Homo sapiens: one gene and its partners. The protein of the gene in region 3 purifies or fractionates together with the protein of the main gene of each other region. This does not show direct contact. Each region holds a gene or a part of one and is shown on either strand. Other genes may lie near its edges.

What was found.
Region 1: the proteins of PEX7 (region 3) and PDCL purify together in Homo sapiens (affinity purification with mass spectrometry; 4 studies listed by BioGRID and IntAct, with this or other methods). This does not show direct contact.
Region 2: the proteins of PEX7 (region 3) and PDCL3 purify together in Homo sapiens (affinity purification with mass spectrometry; 4 studies listed by BioGRID and IntAct, with this or other methods). This does not show direct contact.

Annotation. Positions count from the first base shown.
Region 1 is NC_000009.12:122,825,563-122,832,618, reverse strand, and holds the start of PDCL (phosducin-like protein), read left to right. Parts: upstream 1-4,030; 5' UTR 4,031-4,148; intron 4,149-5,826; 5' UTR 5,827-5,831; coding exon 5,832-6,003; intron 6,004-7,056. UniProt on the Homo sapiens protein: Acts as a positive regulator of hedgehog signaling and regulates ciliary function.
Region 2 is NC_000002.12:100,565,993-100,573,018, reverse strand, and holds part of PDCL3 (phosducin-like protein 3), read right to left. Parts: intron 6,517-7,026; coding exon 6,390-6,516; intron 4,089-6,389; coding exon 3,998-4,088; intron 3,442-3,997; coding exon 3,298-3,441; intron 1,430-3,297; coding exon 1,221-1,429; intron 1-1,220. UniProt on the Homo sapiens protein: Acts as a chaperone for the angiogenic VEGF receptor KDR/VEGFR2, increasing its abundance by inhibiting its ubiquitination and degradation.
Region 3 is NC_000006.12:136,825,590-136,832,615, forward strand, and holds part of PEX7 (peroxisomal biogenesis factor 7), read left to right. Parts: intron 1-729; coding exon 730-880; intron 881-7,026. UniProt on the Homo sapiens protein: Receptor required for the peroxisomal import of proteins containing a C-terminal PTS2-type peroxisomal targeting signal. Specifically binds to cargo proteins containing a PTS2 peroxisomal targeting signal in the cytosol.

The DNA.
Region 1 (7,056 bases), on a different chromosome or scaffold from region 3:
GAATTGTTTGAAACTGTGAGGCGGAGGTTGCAGTGAGCCGAGATCGCACCACTACACTCCAGCCTGGGTGACAGAGCGAGACTCTGTCTCAAAAAAGAAAAAAAAAAGGTTGTTTAATCTGATTTTTAAATAAGAAAGACATTCTGTTGCAACAGATGGAACACCCTGCCATACACACACCACCACCACCACCAGAGAAGGAAAGTTAAGGTGAGAGAGAAAGAAAGAGAAACAAGGGAGGGGAAAGGACAAAAGGAGAGGGAGCAGAAAAGGCACAAGGGAAGAGAAAGGAAGGGAAGGAAAAGAAAAATAAAAGAATTCAGGAAATGAAGAAAAAGAAAGAAAAGACAAGACAGATGGGCAAGCTGTTTATCTCAAACAGTCCTCATATGGTTTGGTGTCATTCAAAATCATCTCTGGACCTTTAATTCTTATAGAAAAAATAAAGTAACAGGACAAATTTGTTCTAAATTTACAAAAATATTGGTAGAAAAAATCTAACATGAGAAACTCATTGTAAGACCAAATCTTGTTTTGCCTCTGTTATGATTTGGAAAAACTGTAAGAGTGGATCAAGTCTTGGAACTCATGCTTCAAGGAATTTAATCATTTATTTTATTTATTTATCTAGCTATTTATTTATTTATTTTTTTGTGGAGATGGAGTCTCATTCTGTCTCCCAGGCTGGAGTGCAGTGGCATGATCTCAGCTCACTGCAACCTCCTTCTACCGGGTTCAGGTGATTCTCCTGCCTCAGCCTCCCAAGTAGCTGGGATTACAGTAGGCATGCTCCACTCAGCCCGGCTAATTTTTGTATCTTTAGTAGAGATGGGGTTTCACCATGTCGGCCAGGCTGGTCTTGAACTCCTGGCCTAAAATGATCTGCCTGCCTCAGCCTCCCAAAATGGTGGGATTACAGGCATAAGCCATCGTGCCCGGCCTATTTAATCACTTATATATGAATTTCATTCAGTTACTTCAAAATTTTAAATATTTTTAAAAATAGCCTATAAATCTGGTTGGATCAAGGTTTCCCTTGCTTAAAGATAAATGCTTTAGCCGTCACAAGACAGCTCATGGGTTGTTTTCCCCACTAGGGAATACCTTTAATATACTCTACTGATAAACAGCCCAACAAAAACCTTACAGTAGCGGTAAAATACCTTTAAAACTATAAATTACATACAGTATGCTCATTAAACAGAAACTTCATTATCCACATCATTCCACATTTCTTTTTTTTTTTTTTGAGACGGAGTCTCACTCTGTTGCCAGGCTGGAGTACAGTGGCATAATCTCAGCTCACTGCAACCTCCACCTCCTGGGTTCAAGCGATTCTCCTGCCTTAGCCTCCCCAGTAGCTGAGACTACAGGCGTGCGCCACCATGCCCAGCTAATTTTTGTATTTTTAGTAGAGACGGGGTTTCACCATATTGGCCAGGATGGTCTTGATCTCTTGACCTCGTGATCTGCCCACCTCGGCCTCCCAAAGTGCTGGGATTACAGGTGTGAGCCACCATGCCTGGCCCATTCCACATTTCTAACAGGAAAAATGAGTGGTTCTGTTGGATATTATTAGATAGCTAACTCATGTACACATATTCCTGACAGATGCAAGCTACATTCCCAACAAAGACATCACTATATCTATACAACCAGGAGACTGAATATATTAAAAGGTCTGAATTTGAGACCAACGTGGGCAACATAGCAAGACCCCATTTCTACTTTTTTTAAAAAAGGTTGAATATGGCCGGGCGCGGTGGCTCACGCCTGTAATCCCAGCACTTTGGGAGGCCGAGGCGGGTGTATCACGAGGTCAGGAGATCGAGACCATCCTGGCTAACACGGTGAAACCCCGTCTCTACTAAAAAATACAAAAATTAGCCGGGCGTGGTGGCGGGAGCCTGTAACCTGGGAGGCGGAGATTGCAGTGAGCCGAGAATTGCGCCACTGCACTCCAGCCTTGGCAACAGAGTAAGACTCCGTCTTAAATAAATAAATAAATAAATAAACCAGTGTCGGGCAGTTCTTTATAGCAGTATGAACTGCCTGACACTGGGTTATTTATTTACAGCAGTATGAAAACGGACTTATTAATACAGTATTCTTGAATGGGTGTGTGTTTGTGTGTGGTATTTTTTGACTCCTCTGAGGGCCTCAGCAAACAGCCTCTCTGAAAACAGGCAGGTACAGAAATTTGCAGACAATTTCAGGTGGTCCTAGAACCACAAATTAAGATCCCCTACCCCAAATTAAGAGCCCTATTTTAAACAGTGTATCTTTCTAGAATATTTTCTATGATTCAATTTACCCAAAGCTTTCTATGAGCAACTTCACGGTTGTGTATTGGATACTTCAACAAGGGCTCAGAATTTGAAATCATTTTAGGTTTTAAAAAAGTTGCAAAAACAGACGACAAAGTATGCCTGAGGAAAAAGAAAAAAAAGTTGCAAAATATCATAGTATGGCTTTACCCTGGAAGAAGAAAACAAAGTTGCAAAAATAGGATAGTGCTTCCCTAGATTCTTCATCTAATAGAATCTCCAAAAGTTCACATCTTACATAGTATAATTATTAAAACTATTGATACAATACTACTAATATGAATTAATAGGCCTTATTCAAATTTCGTCAGTTGTCCCATTCATGTCCTTTTTATTTTTCTTTTTTGAGACGGAGTCTCAGTCTTGACCCCCAAGCTGGAGTGCAGTGGTGCGATCTCAGCTGTCTGCAACCTCCGCCTCCCGGGTTCAAGCGATTCTCCTGCCTCAGCCTCCGAGTAGCTGGGATTACAAGTGTGCACCACCATGCCCGGCTAATTTTTGTATTTTTAGTAAAGACGGGGTTTCGCCATGTTGGCCAGGCTGGTCTCGAACTCCTGACCTCAGGTGATCTGCCCGCCTCGGCCTCCCAAAGTGCTGGGATTACAGGAGTGAACCACCGCACCCGGCCCCATGTCCTTTTTCTATACCAGGAGCCAATTCCGGATTTCACATTACATTCCTGCTCTGTCACCCAGGCTGGCCTCCAAGTCCTGGGCTGAGCGATCCTCCCGCCTCAGCCTCCTGCGTAGCTGGGACTACAGGCGCGCGCCACCACTCCTGGCTGCCGCTTCTTTAAAATGGTGAAACCCCGTCTCTACTAAAAATAGAAAAAATTAGCCGGGTCTGCTGGCGGACGCCTGTAATCCCAGCTACTCTGGAGGCTGAGGCAGGAGAATCTCTTGAACCCGGGAGGCGGAGGTTGCAGTGAGCCGAGATCGCGTCACTGCACTCCAGCCTGGGCAAGAAGAGCGAAACTCCGTCAAAAAAATATATATATATATTTTAATCTATGCCCTGTACTTGAGGGATTTGTGCTCTCGGGCAAATTACCGAACGTCTCTGAGTCACTTTTCCGTCTAATAGACGTGATGCGATGAAGAACCAATAAAAAACACACTTTGAATGGCTTCGGAAACTTCGAAGGGAAGTGAATACATTTTTCTTTTCTTTCTTTCTTTTTTTTTGAGACAGTCTCGCTCTGTCGCCCAGGCTGGGGTGCAGTGGCGCGATCTCGGCCCACTTCAACTTCTGCCTCCTGGGTTTAAGCGATTCTCCTGCCTCAGCCTCCCGAGTAGCTTGGATTACAGGCGTCGGCCACCAGGCCCGGCTAATTTCTGTATTTTTAGTAGAGACGGGTTTTCAACGTGTTGGCCAGGCTGGTCTTGAACTCATGACCTTAAGTGATCCGCCCGCCTCGGCCTCCTAAAGTGCTGGCATTACAGGCGTGAGCCACCGCGCCCGGCCTGTGAATACATTTTTCTTATTGCTTGACGCTGGGTCATACAATTCACTTTTTTGTTGTGCAGATTAAAACCAAAACAAAGCAATTAGGAGAGCGTTGTTGTCGAGGTGTTTTGTTCCAAGGTAGGACCCGTAGCTTCTCCCCTGCCCCTCAGCTGGGAGTAGCGGCTTCTGATTGGACAATGCGCGTCCGCCACGACGCAGGAAGGCCGCCTCATTGGTCCGCGCTGTCGGGCTTCGGCGGCTTTTCTCTTTAGCGCTCAGGGCGCTGACCCACTGCTCTTCCTCTTAAGAAAGTGCTCCATTCCTTCCGGCGCCCGGAGCTGCTGGCCCAAAGGGATCCGGAGCGAGCTAGGGCAGGTAACTGCATTGGGGTCCACCGGGAAGCGGCAGCAGCTGCGGACTACGGGAGGGAGTGGGGTTGGCGAGCTTGGGTAAAACTGCCCCTTCTTCGCTCTGTCTCGACCCCCAAGTTCTCCGCGTCTTCCTCGTCCCCTTTCCTCCTCTGGCCCCACCTCCCCCGGGCCCTTCCAGCCTTCCCCCAAAAGCTCCACACACCCCTCTGCTTCCCGTCCGGGGGCCCCGCCTCCTCTGCTCGCGTCTCCAGGGGGCCCGCCCTCGTCTCCTCCCCGCAGCGGTCCCTCCTTTAGGAGCGCAACTCCTTCCCTCCCCTCCGCCGCTGCTGTGTCCCCCGCTTGGCCCATTCCTGGGCCTTAAGTTTGGTTTTGTTCCTTCTTGGCACCTCCACCTGTCTCTCCATGATCCCTGTCTCCTTTGCATCTGACTGCTGGAGTCCTCCGATTCTCCCGTTGACCCAGGCTGCGAGTTTAGCAAATTGTGCAGCGGCATTGTGCTGGGCTTTGGGGATAGAGGTAGTGACTAGAGGTCCCTACGTTCAAGAACTCCTTGCCCGGTGGGAGAGAGTCACTTTGTAAATGGAGTATGATAGGCCCGGTGATAAGTCTTTAAGGCAGCCGCATTCCTGCTGAATTCTCAAGCAGGCCTCTGGGGGCTAAGCTGCATCTTTTCATCAGAATGCCCTTGGCTACTTCTGATGCAGAAGCCTGGTCCTTTATATTTTTAGTTTTTATTTTTTTTTGAAACAGAGTCTCGCTCTGTCTCCCAGGCTGGAGTGCAGTGGCGTGATCTTGGCTCACTGCAACCTCCGCCTCCCGGATTCAAGAGATTCTCGTGCCTCAGCCTCCTGAGTAGCTGGGAAAACAGACACCCGCCACCACACCTGGCTAATTTTTGTTTGTTTGTTTGTTTGCTTTTACTAGTAGAGACAAGAGTTTCGCCATGTTAGCCAGGCTGGTCTCGAATACCTGGTCTCAAGTGATCCTCCCTCCTCGGCCTCCCTAAGTGCTGGGATTACCTGCGCGAGCCCGGCCATCATAGTCCTTTAAACCCTTGGGAGTTATTAAAATCTTTGTATGGGCCCTTCTTTTAAACTGTCAGAATAGGTAGCGTTTCAGAGACCATCCATCCAAGCCCTCAGGGTGTTGTCTGGGAAGTTGAAGGCTGGTGACAGAGAGTGATTGCCTAGACAAATAGTGACTCAGCATTGTACTCTTGATGCCTCTTTTTGGGGTTTTTCCTGAGGATACTTAAACAATTTTTCAATTAGGCAGCAGTCTTAGCTGGTGGGAAAACTAAAAGCACAGATAAAACCACTAGTCAGTAGATTCCTCCAAGCCAGTGCAGGTGGCTTGTACACTTAACTCAGACTAGAGTAATTTATACCTCAGGCTCTTGGAGTCAGGAATCCCTGGGGTCTGGTCCCAGCTCCGTCATTCGCTGTTAAGCTTGGTGAAGACTCTTCCTTTATCTGAGCTTCAGTTTTACCTTCTGTTAAAGAGTGTGATAAGCCCTAACACACAGGGTAACGGTAGGGATTTGTTAAGATTTTGGTTATGAAAATAATCACTTTAGTGTCCTGGAAATTGTAGGATCTCAGCACAGGCGAGCCCCCTATGCTTCAGATTCATGTCTGTCTGGCTCAAATCAGCAAAGAACCTGATATGCTTTCTTTTTCCAGACACCATGACCACCCTTGATGATAAGTTGCTGGGGGAGAAACTGCAGTACTACTATAGCAGCAGTGAGGATGAGGACAGTGACCACGAGGACAAGGACCGAGGCAGATGTGCCCCAGCCAGCAGTTCTGTGCCTGCAGAGGCTGAGCTGGCAGGCGAAGGCATCTCAGTTAACACAGGTACTGAGAAACCCTGGGCTCTGGGAACAGGCTTAAAAAATGTACATTAAATACATATTAATTAAATACATATTAATAAATTAATTCTCCTGATCACTTTTAACTCTGGTCCCACTTTCAGAGGTAACCTAGTCTTTTCATTATGTGTGCTTCTAGCCTTTTAGTGCACAATACAAATGTATGTGCATAGCAGCATGGTAATGAACACAGACTGGCCTGGATTTGAATCCTGCATCTCGTATTAACAGTTTGATATCTCATAAATCACAAGTATGAGTATATGGGTAGTGCAAATTCCTAAAAATGGCATATTTACACTTGTACATTTTAATATTGTCAAATTGCTGTCAGTTGAGTTGAGGTGGCAGTAGTTTATAGTTTAATCAGCAATCTGTGTTTCTCCGTACACTTGACCTCCTACTGTGTTATGAAACTCCTTGATCTTTGCTATTGTAGTAATTCATTGTAGGTTTATTTCCGCCCCCACCACCTTTTTTTTGTTTTGTTTTGTTTTTTTGTTTTTTAAGACAAGTTCTCACCTTGTTGCTCAGGCTGGAGTGCCTTGGTGCCATAATGGCTCACTGCAGCCTCAACTTCCTGAGCTCAAATGATCCTTCTGCCTCAGCTTCCATGAGGTTCCTCTCTTAAAAAGCTGGGACCACGTGTAGCTGGGACCACAGGCGCTTGCCACCGTGCCCAGCTAATTTATTTCTTTATTTTTTGTAGAGATGGGGTCTCACTTTGTTGCCCAGGCTGGCCTCACACTGCTGGCCTCAAGCGATCATCTGCCTCAGCGTCCCATAGGCATGAACCAATGCACTGGGCCCATATTTATTTTTAAGAGGGAACCTAAACTTCTTTTCATAATTTTAAGAGAGATTTTTATATCCTTTGCTCATTTAAAAAATTAGGTGTTTTTTTTCTTCTTGGGGAGCTATAAAGGAAATTAATCTGTGATATGAGTGGTAAATATTTCTTTCAGTTTGTTGTTGTCTTTTGACTTTATATTCTTTTGTTCTTTTCCTGGATGAAAAATTTTATTTTTATGTACTT
Region 2 (7,026 bases), on a different chromosome or scaffold from region 3:
CAGCTACCTGAGACGCTGAGGCAGGAGAATTGCTTGAAACCAGAAGGTGGAGGTTCCAGTGAACCAAGATCGCACCACTGCACTCCAGCCTGAGCGAAAGAGCAAAACTCCATCTCAAAAAAACAAACAATCAAACAAAAACCACATCCTTCCGAGCTAACAGGCAGAATTAAATAAAATTTTAATTTAATTTAAAAGCTGGCCAGGCGCAGTGGCTCACGCCTGTAATCCCAGCACTTTGGGAGGCTGAGGCGGGTGGATCACCTGAGGTCAGGAGTTTGAGACCAGCCTGACCACATGGAGAAACCCTGTCTCTACTAAAAATACAAAAAAATTAGCCAGGCATGTTGGCACATGCCTGTAATCCCAGCTACTAGGGAGGCTGAGGCAGGAGAATCACTTGAACCTGGGGGGCAGAGGTTGCAGTGAGCCGAGATCACGTGATTGCACTCCAGCCTGGGCAAGAAGAGTGAAACTCTGTCTCAAAAAAAATAAATAAAAGCTACTAGCCGGGCGCAGTGGCTCACGTCTGTAATCCCAGCACTTTGGGAGGCTGAAGTGGGTAGATCACTTGAGGCCAGGAGTTTGAGACCAGCCTGGCCAACATGGTGAAACCCCGTCTCCACTAAAAATACAAAAATTAGCTGGGCGTGGTGGTAGGTGCCAGTAATCCCAGATACTTGGGAGGCAGAGGCAGGAGAATCACTTGAACCTGGGAGGCAGAAGTTGCAGTGAGGCAAGATCATACCATTGCACTCCAGCCTGGGTGACAGAGCAAGACTCTGTCTCAAAAAATAAATAACTAAGTAAATAAATGTAAAAGCTACTAACATACTCAACTGAGAATGTTTCTGTAGAAAAATACAAATACATACATTAACGTCTCCCTGTGTTCATGTGAATTAAAGCAAAAGTGAATGTTGTGATTTCAAGCTACAAAAACATCCAACTGTAGAGACAAAATATATTCCACACCAATATAAAAAATGTTTATATTTAAGTCTATCACGCCTTCCTTGAACTAAGAATCAGTAGAGCCCAGTTGTAACTGTTCCTGATTACGCAACTAAGATGAGAGATTAAACGTGCTTCCGTCCTCATACACAGGCAGAAGTGAACTTGACCCACCATCGTAACAGGAGTCCAGGAAATAGACACTCTCTCCAACAGAAATGCGCCTCCCATCTCTCACTGCCCCGCCTGTCTCCCAGAGCCCTTACCATCTCTTGTCAGGTTCATGCCGCCAAACACCAGAGGACCAATAAACTGAGCCTTGATATCTCCTTCCAGGTAAACAAATATCGTGGGCAGATTCCTATCAGGATAATTGGGTATGCAGGTTGTTGAAATGGCTTTGATAAATTTGACATCAGGAAACTTCCTGGCAAGTCCACTGAGGTGCTGATTTATCAGGGCACAGAGGGGAATTCTATAAAACACACATAGAAAACAGAAGCAATTATGATCCTACATTTATACAGAACAAAGCTCAATGACCCTTCTACCCTAAGTAAAACCTTGTAACAGTTTCACAAGTAATTCTGCTGCTAGCTAAGATGAATTAACATGTTTTTTTTGACATAGGGTCTTGTTTTCACCCAGGCTAAATGGAGTGAAGTGGTGTGATCTCGGCTCACAAGCAATGCTCCCACCTCAGCCCCCCAAGTAGCACTTTGGGAGGCCAAGGTGAGTGGATCATGAGGTCAGCAGTTCAAGACCAGCCTGGCCAAGATCATGAGGTCAGGAGTTCAAGACCAGCCTGGCCAAGATGGTGAAACCCCATCTCTACTAAAAATACAAAAATTAGCTGGGTGCAGTGGCAGGCGCCTGTAATCCCAGCTACTCGGGAGGTGTGATTACAGGCACACACCACCATGCCCAGCTGATTTTTTTTTTTTTTTTTTGTAAAGACAGGGTTTCACCACGTTGCCCAGGCTGCTCTTGAACTCTTGAGCTCGAGATCCGGCCGCAATGGCTTCCCAAAGTGCTGGGATTACAGGTATTACAGGTGTAAGCCACCATGCCCAGCTGAATTAACATTTCTTAAAAACTTCCTAATATGCTGAGGGAAAGTGAAGAACACAAATCCAAAGTCCAATTTATTTGACAAAACAAGTCAGAAAAACAGCTTCAATGTAAAAGATAAAATTGCTATACATTTCTTATAAGGTTGAATGAGAAAACGCTGAAGGTTTAGAAAGTATGAAATGTCAGAAAACGTTTTCTGCTTTAAAGAAATTCCTGGCCAGGTGCAGCGGCTAACGCCTGTAATCCCAGCACTTTGGGAGGCCAAGATGAGTGGATCATGAGGTCAGGAGTTCAAGACCAGCCTGGCCAAGATGGTGAAACCCCGTCTCTACTAAAAATACAAAAATCAGCTGAGTGCGGTGGCAGGCGCCTGTAATCCCAGCTACTCAGGAGCAGAGGCAGGAGAATCGCTTGAACCTGGGAGACGGAGGTTGCAGTGAGCCGAGATCATGCCACTGCACTCCAGCCTGGTCAATGGAGTGAGACTTTGTCTCAAACAAAAAAAAAAAAAAAAAAGAAATTCCTAAATAAGCACTGGACTCTACAGTTTAAGACAAGACTGGAGAGCTGAGAAAAATCAGAGGCCCTCAGTATCACACAGTTCAGGCAATTACTACTGTAAAGGCCAACCTTGCCATCTATGAGATAAATTCATTACATAGAATGTTGAAATGTCAGAGTTCCTGTAAAGGAATAAATAACTTAGGAATTCCTTTTCAAAAACAGAAAAGCATAGTCTTCATTGCTATACTTTAACAAAGGCATTCATATTAGTCACAAATTATTAACTTGAAAGTCTTAAGATAAAAAAATTAAGTAATAAGGTTTGGGCAAACCAGCAAAAAAAACACAAAAAACTCAGTACCAGAAAAATTTTTTCTGAGACAAAGTCTCGCTCTGTCGCCCAGGCTGGAGTGCAGTGGCGCAATCTCGGCTCACTGCAAGCTCCGCCTCCCGGGTTCATGCCATTCTCCCACCTCAGCCTCCCAAGTAGCTGGGACTATAGGCGCCCGCGACCACGCCCAGCTAATTTTGTTTTTGTATTTTTAGTAGAGACGGGGTTTCATCGTGTCAGCCAGGATGGTCTTGATCTCCTGACCTCATGATCCACCTGCCTCAGCCTCCCAAAGTGCTGGGATTACAGGTGTGAGCTACTGCGCCTGGCCCAGAAAAAAAAATTTCTTAACCCTCTGATATAGGTAACGCCTGAGATCCTGAAGACATAAATTCAAATTAACATTTGATAGATGGAGTGGAAGATCAGCTCACCCTTGTTTGTAAAGGTGCAAGATGACCCACAAGCCCTCGCCAGCTTTGGTAACTTCTTGAACATAATCCTTCCCTGAGATCTCCAAAACTTCTCCGAATTTATTCTTCAGTTTAGTTGCTTTCCACTCAGCCAGTCTCCGCCGTCTGCACAAAACAAGGAGAGAAACATCTTACGTCACAAACACGTGTACACACACATCGTCTAGAAGGCAATCCTTGTAAAAGCCCAGGTTTATTTATTGGTCTTATGGCAAAAATCTAAGATCAGTTTGCTAAAATTCACAATATTATTTAATTGCAGTCGCTCCTAGATGTTTCAGCTGAAAATTAATTTTTTGAAGGACACACATTTCATTTTATTTTTTGAGACAGAGTTTGGCTCTGTCACACAGGCTGGAGTGCAGTGGCACAGTCTCAGCTCACTGCAACCTCCACTTCCAGGGCTCCTGAGTAGCTGGAACTATAGCCGTTCACCACCACACCCAGCTAGTTTTTGTATTATTTATAGAGACGGGGTTTCACAGGCTGGTCTCAAACTTCTGAGCTCAAGCGATCTGCCTGCCTCAGCCTCCCAAAGTGTTGGGACTACAGGTATGAGTCACCATGCTCAGCCCACACATTTTATTGCCACGCCAAAAAAAAAACCAAAACAAAACAAACAACAACAAAAAAACAAACAGCCCCTCTGGGTGGCGCTTACCTGTACATTTCAATAGCACGTTCATCCTCCTCATTAAACTCGTCTTCATGATCCTCCAGCTCTTCCAAAGTCATATCTTCATATGTTTTCACTGAATTTGGTTACATTGGCAAAAAGCAAAAATTTAAAAAGATGAACGAACATGTATTTTTCTTTTTTCCCCTCTCTTTTCTCCTAAAGATATGCACACAACACCAGATCCTTAGCCTACCTAAACAAAAATTACTTAAGGCACCACACTACATTAGAAGCTGAGAGGCCAGGCATGGTGGCTCACACCTGTAATCCCAATTTATTGACTGACAACATTTTACCCAAGCCCTCAGATCCTCCTCCCCTCTCTTCTCCTATTCCGCCTCACCCTGCCCCGCTTATTTTCCTTTTTTTGGAGACAGAGTTTCACTCTTGTCATCCAGGCTGGAGTGCAATGGTGCGATCTTGACTCACTGAGAACCTCCGCCTCCCAGATTCAAGCAATTCTCCTGCCTCAGCCTCCTGAGTAGCTGGGATTACAGGCGTGTGCCACCACACCCAGCTAATTTTTGTATCATTAATAGAGACAGGGTTTCACCATGTTGGCCAAGCTGGTCTTGAACCTTCTGACCTCAAGTGATCTGCCCATCTCAAAGTGCTGGGATTACAGGAGTGAGCCAGCCGCCCTACTGTTGAACCCTTTGCTGATTAAAATTCCCCAGGCTCAAACCTTTGACTACTTTTCTTCTTTATCCACACCCACTCCCTCGGTGATTGCATCTAATCTCATGGCTTTCAGTGCTATCAATATGCTGACAACTCCCAAAGTATAGGCCTCCAGCCCAGACTTCTCTAATGTAGAGAAAAACATACCCAAGGGCCCTCTTAATGTGGCTATTTGTCTAATAGGGATCTCCAAGTTAATGCATCCCTTGGCTGGGTGCAGTGGCTCACGCCTATAATCCCAGCTCTTTGGGAGGCTGAGGTGGGCGGATCACTAGAGGTCAGGAGTTTGAGACCAGCCTGGCCAACATGGTGAAACCTCATCGCTACAAAAAATTACCTAGGCGTGGTGGCACATGTCTGTAATCCCAGCTACTCGGGAGGCTGACGCAGGAGAATCGCTTGAACCTGGGAGGCGGAGGTTGCAGTGAGCCAAGATTGCGCCACTGCAGTCCAGCCTGGGTAAGAGAGCGAGACTCCATCTCAAAAAAAAAACAAAAAAGAGAAAATGTCACTCTTCTGTTTAAACATCCAAAAGCTTCCTGCCTCATTAGGTGTAAAGGCCAAGGTCCTTACTAGAAGCTTCTGGGTCTGCTGAGGCTGCTCTGAACTCTCTCCCCCAGCGCCTCCAGCTCCTCAGGGATTCCCAGCCATGCCAGGGCCCATATTTCACTCGCTCACGTCACCCCCTTCAGGAATACCCAGATGTCTTCTTCACCTCCTTCAGGTCTCAACAACTCCCTCAGGTCTATTCAAATGTGTTCTTCAGCTCCTTCAGGTCTTTACCCAAATGCCAGCTTCACCTCCTTCAGGTCCATGCAAATGTCATCTCAGTGAGGCCCTCTCTGAGCCTGCTTCTCCTCCAACCCTTTCTAGTCCCTTTTACTGCCTTATTTTCTTTATTGTTTATTGTCTGTCTCCCCCACTTGAATGTTGGTTCTCTGAGGGCAGAGAATTGTCTCTGGCTTATGCATAGCTAAATCCCCAACCCCAGAAAAGCACCTGACAATGATAATCATGCAGTAAGCACTCGCTGGATACTTTCTAATAAATCCTTCTCTAAATTAGCTCTAATGTGTCAACAGAGGACAAAAGTACTAGTCCCTGGGACCAGTGCTTCTCAAACTATGACACGCATCAGAATCCTTTAAGGCACTTGTTTAAAATGCAGATTCCTGGGCCTCATTCCAGAGACTGCTTCAGTAAACACTAGGTGGGTGGGGTTACCAGCACTCCAAGGGACTCCAATTCAGACAGTACAACTGCCTTTGAGAAAACCCCCCTCAGACTCCCACACATTGCAAACATCTTATGCCTCCCCAAATGAAGCAATTTTTAGTTAATATCCTCAATGAAACCACAGAAAATAAAGTATATGCTCAGGAAAATACAAGTACTAAAAACCTTGAACAAATTTCCATGACATTATCAAAGGGAATCACAGACCAGAAAGCAGAAAGAAGTATTTTCTTCAGTGCTCATGTGACATGGACAAGGACTTGTGGGACATATCTGAAGTCCCCTAAGTCTATGGCTCAGGAAGGTGAAGGTGAGAGACGCCCTGTGTTTTGTCTGAGGTCCCACAGACACAGAGTGTCCATGCTGGCACTCCAACCTGTCTCCTGGCAGGGCAGTCAGAGGCTTAGGGAGCCATCTCCTAACCCAGACAGGTGCAGAGGAAAGCGAGTGAACTCACCCACTGACTGCTGGAGGATGCGCTGCTCCTCTTCTGCCTCCTCTTCCAATTCTTTCAGACTTTCCTTGGGGGGTAAGATACCCTTTTTGCGTAAGATGTCATTCCATTCAGTGTCTGCGTTGGGGTCCTAGAAGAGCGGGACCAAGGTTACCATGAGTGCTAAGTCTAGTATGTAGGGTGCCACGTTGGGCAAGGGGCCAAATGGGAAAAGTGACAGGAAGGGAGGAATGCACACCAGTCTGTGAACTATTTCTGAGAAAGTGTCAAAAGATCCATAGCCCCCGTTTTGTTTTTCCTGTCTACCCCTCCCTGAATGGAGGAGCTATTCTTGGGGTAAAAATTAGGATAGGGAGTGCAGATCAGTATCAATACGGATACCAAGGCTCTGACTTGGCATGTGTTCAATATTTTTAATAATGACTGAGAGTGCCGGGCACAGTGGCTCACGCCTGTAATCCCAGCACTTTGGGAGGCTGAGGCAGGCGGATCACGAGGTCAGGAGATAGAGACCATCCTGACTAACACGGTGAAACCCCGTCTCTACTGAAAATACAAAAAATTAGCCGAGCGTGGTGGCGGGCACCTGTAGTCCCAGCTACTTGGGAGGCTGAGGCAGGAGAATGGCATAAACCCGGGA
Region 3 (7,026 bases):
GTGGCGCCATCTTGGCTCAGTGCAGTCTTCCCCTCCTGGGTTCAAGTGATTCTCCTGCCTCAGCCTCCCAAGTAGCTGGGATTATAGGTGCCCGCCACCACACCCGGCTAATTTTTGTATTTTTTAGTAGAGATGGGGTTTCATCATTTTGGCCAGGCTGGTCTCAAACTCCTGACCTCAGGTGATCTGCCCACCTTGGCCTCCCAAAGTGGGTATTATATGCGTGAGCCACTGGGCCCAGCCTAAAAATTTTTTTAATTTTTAGGCCGTAGTCCCAGCTACTTGGGAAGCTGAGGTGGGAGGATTGCTTGAGTCCAGTTCAAGGCTGTAGTGAGCTGTGATTGGGCCACTACACTCCAGCCTGGATGACAGAACAAGACTCTTTCTCTCAAATAAAAAACAAAACAAATCTGAAGCCTGTCTCTTAGTGTCCACTCATAAATTATAAAATTTAAACATAAAAAAATGTGGAGCAGTATACTGTGTACTATTACATTTTTGGACTACTACATTCCACTGGACTGTTTTTTTTAACCTTTCTGAATCTGTTGCCATATTTGTCAAGTACCTACTCTACTTAACTCCCGTAGTTGTGCAGATTACATGAGATATACGTGTTAAAATGTGTGATAAATTGAAAGAAAAAAAACCATAATTGTTATTTTTTTTGTTGTGTAGCTGCCTATGTAAGTGTTGTATTTTTTTGTTGTTTGTTTTTTCCTAGTGTAGCTTTGACTGGAATGATGGTTTGTTTGATGTGACTTGGAGTGAGAACAACGAACATGTCCTCATCACCTGTAGTGGCGATGGCTCGCTGCAGCTCTGGGACACTGCCAAAGCTGCAGGGCCACTGCAAGTCTATAAAGAACACGCTCAGGAGGTAGGAGGGAAATCTTTCTGGGCTGATTATTTTTCTTTCTTCGACTTTGGTTGAAATCCATTTGGGGATGGACACATGGAGAAATATCTTCAGGGGACAAGTTTAAACGTTAGCATTTCTTATACATACTAGATGTCACTTATTATTTGATTATTCAAACATAAAGTACCTCTTGGCCTAAGGAGTGGGGAAAGAAAAGAAAAGGTCAGTCTTCTCATTAGGCAGAAAGAACACCTCCAGCAGTGTACTCTGGCACCATTTCCTCCTGAGAGGCCCATCACTTTCTTTGTGCTCTAAGAATGTGCTTGCCACATGGTGCCTTAAGGTAGAGGTAGGTGGACTTTTCACATAGACATCACAAGATTGCCTTTGGGGCTTCAGTGAGATTCCCGAGGTGTTTCAGAGTATATTGGAGCAAGAGCATAAAATACTGAGTATGAGGCAGAACTTACTGAAGGGATTTTATATCTAAATCTGGTTCATGTGTCTAGATTTTGTGTGTGTGTATGTATAGCATAGAAAATAGTTTGGGCTTCAGTTGTACTAACATACATGTATATTTTCAGTGAACATAAAGACATCCTCTTTTTGTGTTTTTACCTTAAATGTTTTAAGATTTTCCTTAAGGGAGCAGTACATCCTTCAGATGAAAACTTGCTAATCTACTTTCAAATTTTTGTCCACCACAGTGCCTGGCCCGAGAAGGCCCTCAATAAATGCTTATTAGATGCAAGAATATCAGTCTTTTGTGGTAAAGATTAGTTATGTGAGGGGTCCAGATGTTTTATAGCTGTAGCTATTGACAATCAAGATTTCTAAGATTGTTACTGAAATAATGAAAAATTTTAGTTTCTATTTTAATTATGATAGCTATTTGAATAAATGTAGTTGTAAATTACTATGTTTTCAGGGAATTACTGAATATTAAGACAATTTTGGTAAAGGAGAAATTTTAGTTTCAGGATAATCAATGCACGAATCTCTACAGAACAGTATGTCCAAAATTCAGATACTTTTGTGGAACCTGTGTGAATTTGTGTGTGTGTGTGTGTGTGTGTGTGTGTGTGTGTGTGTGTGTGTCAGGGTCTCACTCTGTTGCCCAGGCTAGAGTGCAGTGGTGCAATCTTGGCTTACTGCAACCTCCACCTTCTGGAATGGGCTCAAGCCATTCTCATGTCTTAGCCACCCGAGTAGCTGGGATTACAGACGTGCGCCACCGTGCCCTGCTAATTTTTGTATTTTTAGTAGAGACGGGTTTCACCATGTTGGCTAGGCTGGTCTTGAACTCCTGGGCTCACATGATCCACCTGCCTTGGCCTCCCAAAGTGCTGGGATTATAGGCGTGAGCCACCGTGCCCAGCCAATTTTTGTGTGTGTGTGTTTTTTTGTTGTTGTTTTTTTTTGTAGAGATGGAGTTTCGCTATGTTGCCCAGGCTAGTTTTTGTGATGTTTGACATCTTTTTATACCACTTGTATTATAATGTATTTCTTTTCCTTCTTTCTTTTTTAAAAAATATTTTTCTTTTCAGAAGTTTTTTTTTTCCTTTTTCTTAAATCTTTGGTGCCTTTTATTATCTATATAAATTCAAGGATGATAACTGACATCATAAAATAATATAGCTAGTTAAGGTAAATTCAATATATTGACTTAATGTTTTTCTTTCAATCAAGTAAAGTCGTTGCTTCATTTATCCTAAAACAGTAATATTCATGAAACAATGGGGTTGATGGCTACTTTAGTATGTACATTTATTTGTTTTTAGTGTACATTGAGATAAGTAAGTAATGAATAAAATAAATGTATGTACCAGTTAAAATAATCTCTGGTGTAACTACTCTCTGGAAAATACTGTTCTAGGATATCCTGGATGGATGCTCACTCAGTCTTTACTTCCTGTCAGTGAAAGTAAATTTCACTTTCTCTTGAGATAACTTATTTGACTTTTAGGTTGTTCTGATTATTAAGAAACTGCTTCTTGTAATCCCAACTCTACCTTCTATAGCAACCAACTGCTGCTTTTAGTGTCTTTCTCTGAAGTGGCAAGACCAGGTCCAGCCCCTCTTGTCCAGGAAACCTCTTGAAAATAGCCATCGTGCTCTCTTCCAGACTGTGCACTTGTCATTTCATTGTCCTGTCCTCAGATGACATGATCTGTACGTCTTTCATCCTTCTGATAGCCTCCTTTGATAATCCTGTTTTTCAACTCCCCTTTCAACATATACCTAATTTATTCCAGAAATGTGATGAAGGGCTAAGCTTTATAAGATTTTACCACCATAGTCTTGAGCCCCTAGCTCTAATAATATTACCTAAAGTGGCTATACATTGTTCTCAGCCATGTCTTAGTGTTAGGTTACTTTGAGTCTGCTAGTAACACACTTACCTCTTTTGTTATTTGAACTGCTATTAAACCAGTTTTACATCATTCTGTGATTTTGCAGCTGATTTCTTGAACCGAAGACACACTTCTGTTTTTTAATTTTTTAAATTTGTTTTGCGTACTGCTATTCTAGTTAGACTTCCTCGTTTTCTTTTCAAATGCACTTTTTGGTAAGCGTTTGTATCAGGATGCCTTGAATGTTAGTGTAATAGAAAACAATTAAATGGCTTCAACAGTCAGAGTTTACTGTTTCACATATTTTGCTTGGTTATGTGAAAAATAAATGAAGATAACCTTTTTAGGTATTTGTTACAGCAGCACCCCTAATTCTTGGCACCAGTTTCTGCCTCAGTCTGTTCAGGCTGCTGTAACAAAGTATTATAGACTGGGTGCCTTATAAAGAACAGAAATTTATTTCTTACTATTCTGGAGGTTGGAAGTCCAAGGTCAGGGTGCCCACATGTTTGGGTTCTGATGAGGGCCCTCTTTTAGGTCAAAGACTACTGCTGTCTTTTCATTGTATCTGCAGGTGGTGGAAAGAGAATGAGAGAGGTTTGGGAAATCCCTTTTATAAGAGCACTAATCCCATTCATGAGGGCTCTACATTCATGACCTAATTACCCCCCAGAGGCCCTACGTCCTAAAACCATTACACTGGGGGGTTAAGATTTCAACATGTGGGTTTTGTGGGGATATATTCAGTCCATTGCATATGCCAGATACTCAAAAATACTTAAAAGGATTTAAGCTCAAATGAGAGTTTTAAGGAGCTAGTAAATATTTGTTGAATAAATTAATAAATGAGGCTGAGTGCAGTGAGTCATGCCTGTAATCCTAACACTTTGGAAGGTCGAGGTGGGCAGATCACTGAAGGCCAGGAGTTTGGGACCAGCCTGGCCAACATGGCGAAAACCCCGCCTCTACTAAAAATAAAAAAATTAGCTGGGTGTGGTGGTGCACACCTGTAGTCCCAGCTATTTGGTGGCTGAGGCACAAGAATCATTTGAGCATGGGAGGTGGAGGTTGCAGTGAGCTGAGTTCGTGCCATTGCACTCCAGCCTGGACAACAGAGTGAGACCCTGTCTTAAAAGAAAGTTATTAAAAAAAAAAGTTGATAATGAACATAGCCAATTTCTGTTTTTTTTTTTTCCACCAGTATGTTCAGGGAAGCTGTGTTGTGAAATAGAAGAGCAACTAATGGGTCATTTTCTTCTGTGGAAGAGAGTATATAATAAAGACGTATAGCATGGTTTTAGTCAATCTTGGATTTGAATCCCAGCTTTGTAAGTTACCTGTTGTGAGACCTTGCGTATGTCACATATTTTTCCTAAACTTGAGTGTTTTTATTTGCAAACTAAGTTTATTAGTAGTCTGTATCACAGACCAGCATTGAATAAATATGAGCTAGTATTATTATTTGCTCTTATTATAATAGGGTTTGAAAAATGTAAAACAAGTTAGAACTTTTCCAGTTACCCACTTTACCACTTGATGGCTATGTGTCCAACAGTCAATTTTCAAGTTGTCAGATGAAGCAAAAAAGAGAAATCCAAGATTTAGATATATTTTAGGCTTTGAGGAGTGAAGGTCTTGGTGAAATGAAAAGAAAGAAAAACATGGACATTATCTGTGTGAATGGTTGCTAAACCTAGCATCGAAGTAGGAATCAAATTCTTCTGTCTATTGTTTAACTGGTGTCTGCAGAGGTCATTATGTCTTTTGAGTCCCATAAAATGCCTTTGGCTTTGCTTATTCTAATGCTGCTGAATATATAATAAAAATTTTTAAAAGTTCAGTGAGAATAGAAAAATAAGAGTGAATTGACAATTTTATTTCACTGCTTTCTGACTTAAAACACTGTGCTACTGAGAGTGAGTTAAAGTGACTTTAAAGATGACATAAATCAATGTAATATATTAATTTCTAATTTTCAGACTAATGAGTTGGCTTATCACAATTTAAAAATGAGTTAAAATTTGTTCTCATAGTCAAATAACAAGGTTTATCAATTTGCTGAATTTTTATAACATATTTGATCCATTGAGGTTTTTGAGCATTGCTTATAAAAACTTATTTTTGACCTAAGTATACAACTATTAGTATTCTGTTATGGAGGAAATGTATTTGCTTATACATTTCAAGAGTTAAAATCTTGTTTACTTTAAAAAATGAATCAATTATTTACTTTTTGATAATGATAGAAGCTGAGAAGTCAATAATGATAGGTATTGTATTAGTCTGTTTTCACATTGTTATAAAGAAATACCTGAGAGTGGGTAATTTATAAAGGAAAGAGGTTTAATTGACTCACAGTTCCACATGACTGGGGAGGCCTCAGGAAACTTAAAATTATGGCAGAAGGTGAAGGGGAAGTAGATAACCTTCTTCACAAGGCAGCAGGAGAGAGAGAAAGAGAGAGAGAGAAAGCAGGGGAAACTGCCACTTTTAAAGCCATCAGATCTTTTGAGAACTCCCTCACTATCACAAGAACAGCATGGGGGAAACTGCCCCCATGATCCGATCACTTCCTACCGGGTTCCTCCCTGGACACATGGGGATTACAATTCAAGATGAGATTTGGGTGGGGATATAAAGCCAAACCATATCATTCCACTCCTGGCGCCTCCCAAATTTCATGTCTTTTTCACATTTCAAAACCAATCATGACTTTCCAACAGTCCCCCAAAGTCTTAACTTATTCCAGCATTAACCCAAAAGTCCAAGTCCAAAGTCTCATCTGAGACAAGGCAAGTCCCTTTTGCCTATGAGCCTATAAAATAAAAAACAAGTTAGTTACTTCTAAGATACAGTAGGGCTATAGGCATTAGCTAAATGTTTCAAATGGGAGAAATTGGCCAAAACAAAGGGGCCACAGGCCCCATGCAAGTCTGAAACCCAGCAGTGCAGTTACTAAATCTTAAAGCTCTGAAATGATCTCCTTTGACTCCATATCTCACATCCAAGGGGTAGGCTCCCATGGCCTTGGGCAGCTCTACCCTTGTAGCTCTGAAAGGTGCAGTCCTTATGGCTGCTTTCACTGGCTGGCATTGAGTGCCTGTGGCTTTTCCAGCTGTACAATACAAGCTGTCAGTGAATCTACCTTTCTGGGGCCTGGGGGACAGTGGCTCTCTCCTCACAACTCCAGTAGGCAGTGCCCCAGTGGGGACTGTGTGGGGCCTTCAACCCCACATTTTCCTTCTGTACTGCCCTAGCAAAGGTTCTCCATGAGGGCTCCTCCCTTGCAGCAGACTTCTGCCTGGACATTCAGGTGTTTCCATACATCCTCTGAAATTTAGGTGGAGGTTAAACTCTTGTCTTCTAAACTCTTCTTGTCTTCTGTGTACCCACAGACCCAACACCACATGGAAGCTGCCAAGGTTTAGGGCTTGCACCCTCAGAAGCAATGGCTTGAGCTGTACCTTGGCTCCTTTTAGCCATGGCTGGAGCTAGAGCAGCTGGATGCAGGGCACCATGTCTTGAGGCTGCACAGAGCAGCAGGGCCACTCAGGCCCACAAAACCATTTTTCCCTCCTAGGCCGCTGGGCCTGTGATGGGAGGGGCTTCTGCAAATGTCTCTGACATGCCTTGGATACATTTTTCCCATTGTTTTGGCTATTAATATTTGGCTCCTTGTTACTTATACAAATTTCTGCAGCAGGTTTGAATTTCCCCCCAAGAAATAGGTTTTTCTTTTCTACCTCATGGTTAGGTTGCAAATTTTCTGAACTTTTATGCTGTGCTTCCCTTTTAAATATAAGTTCCAAA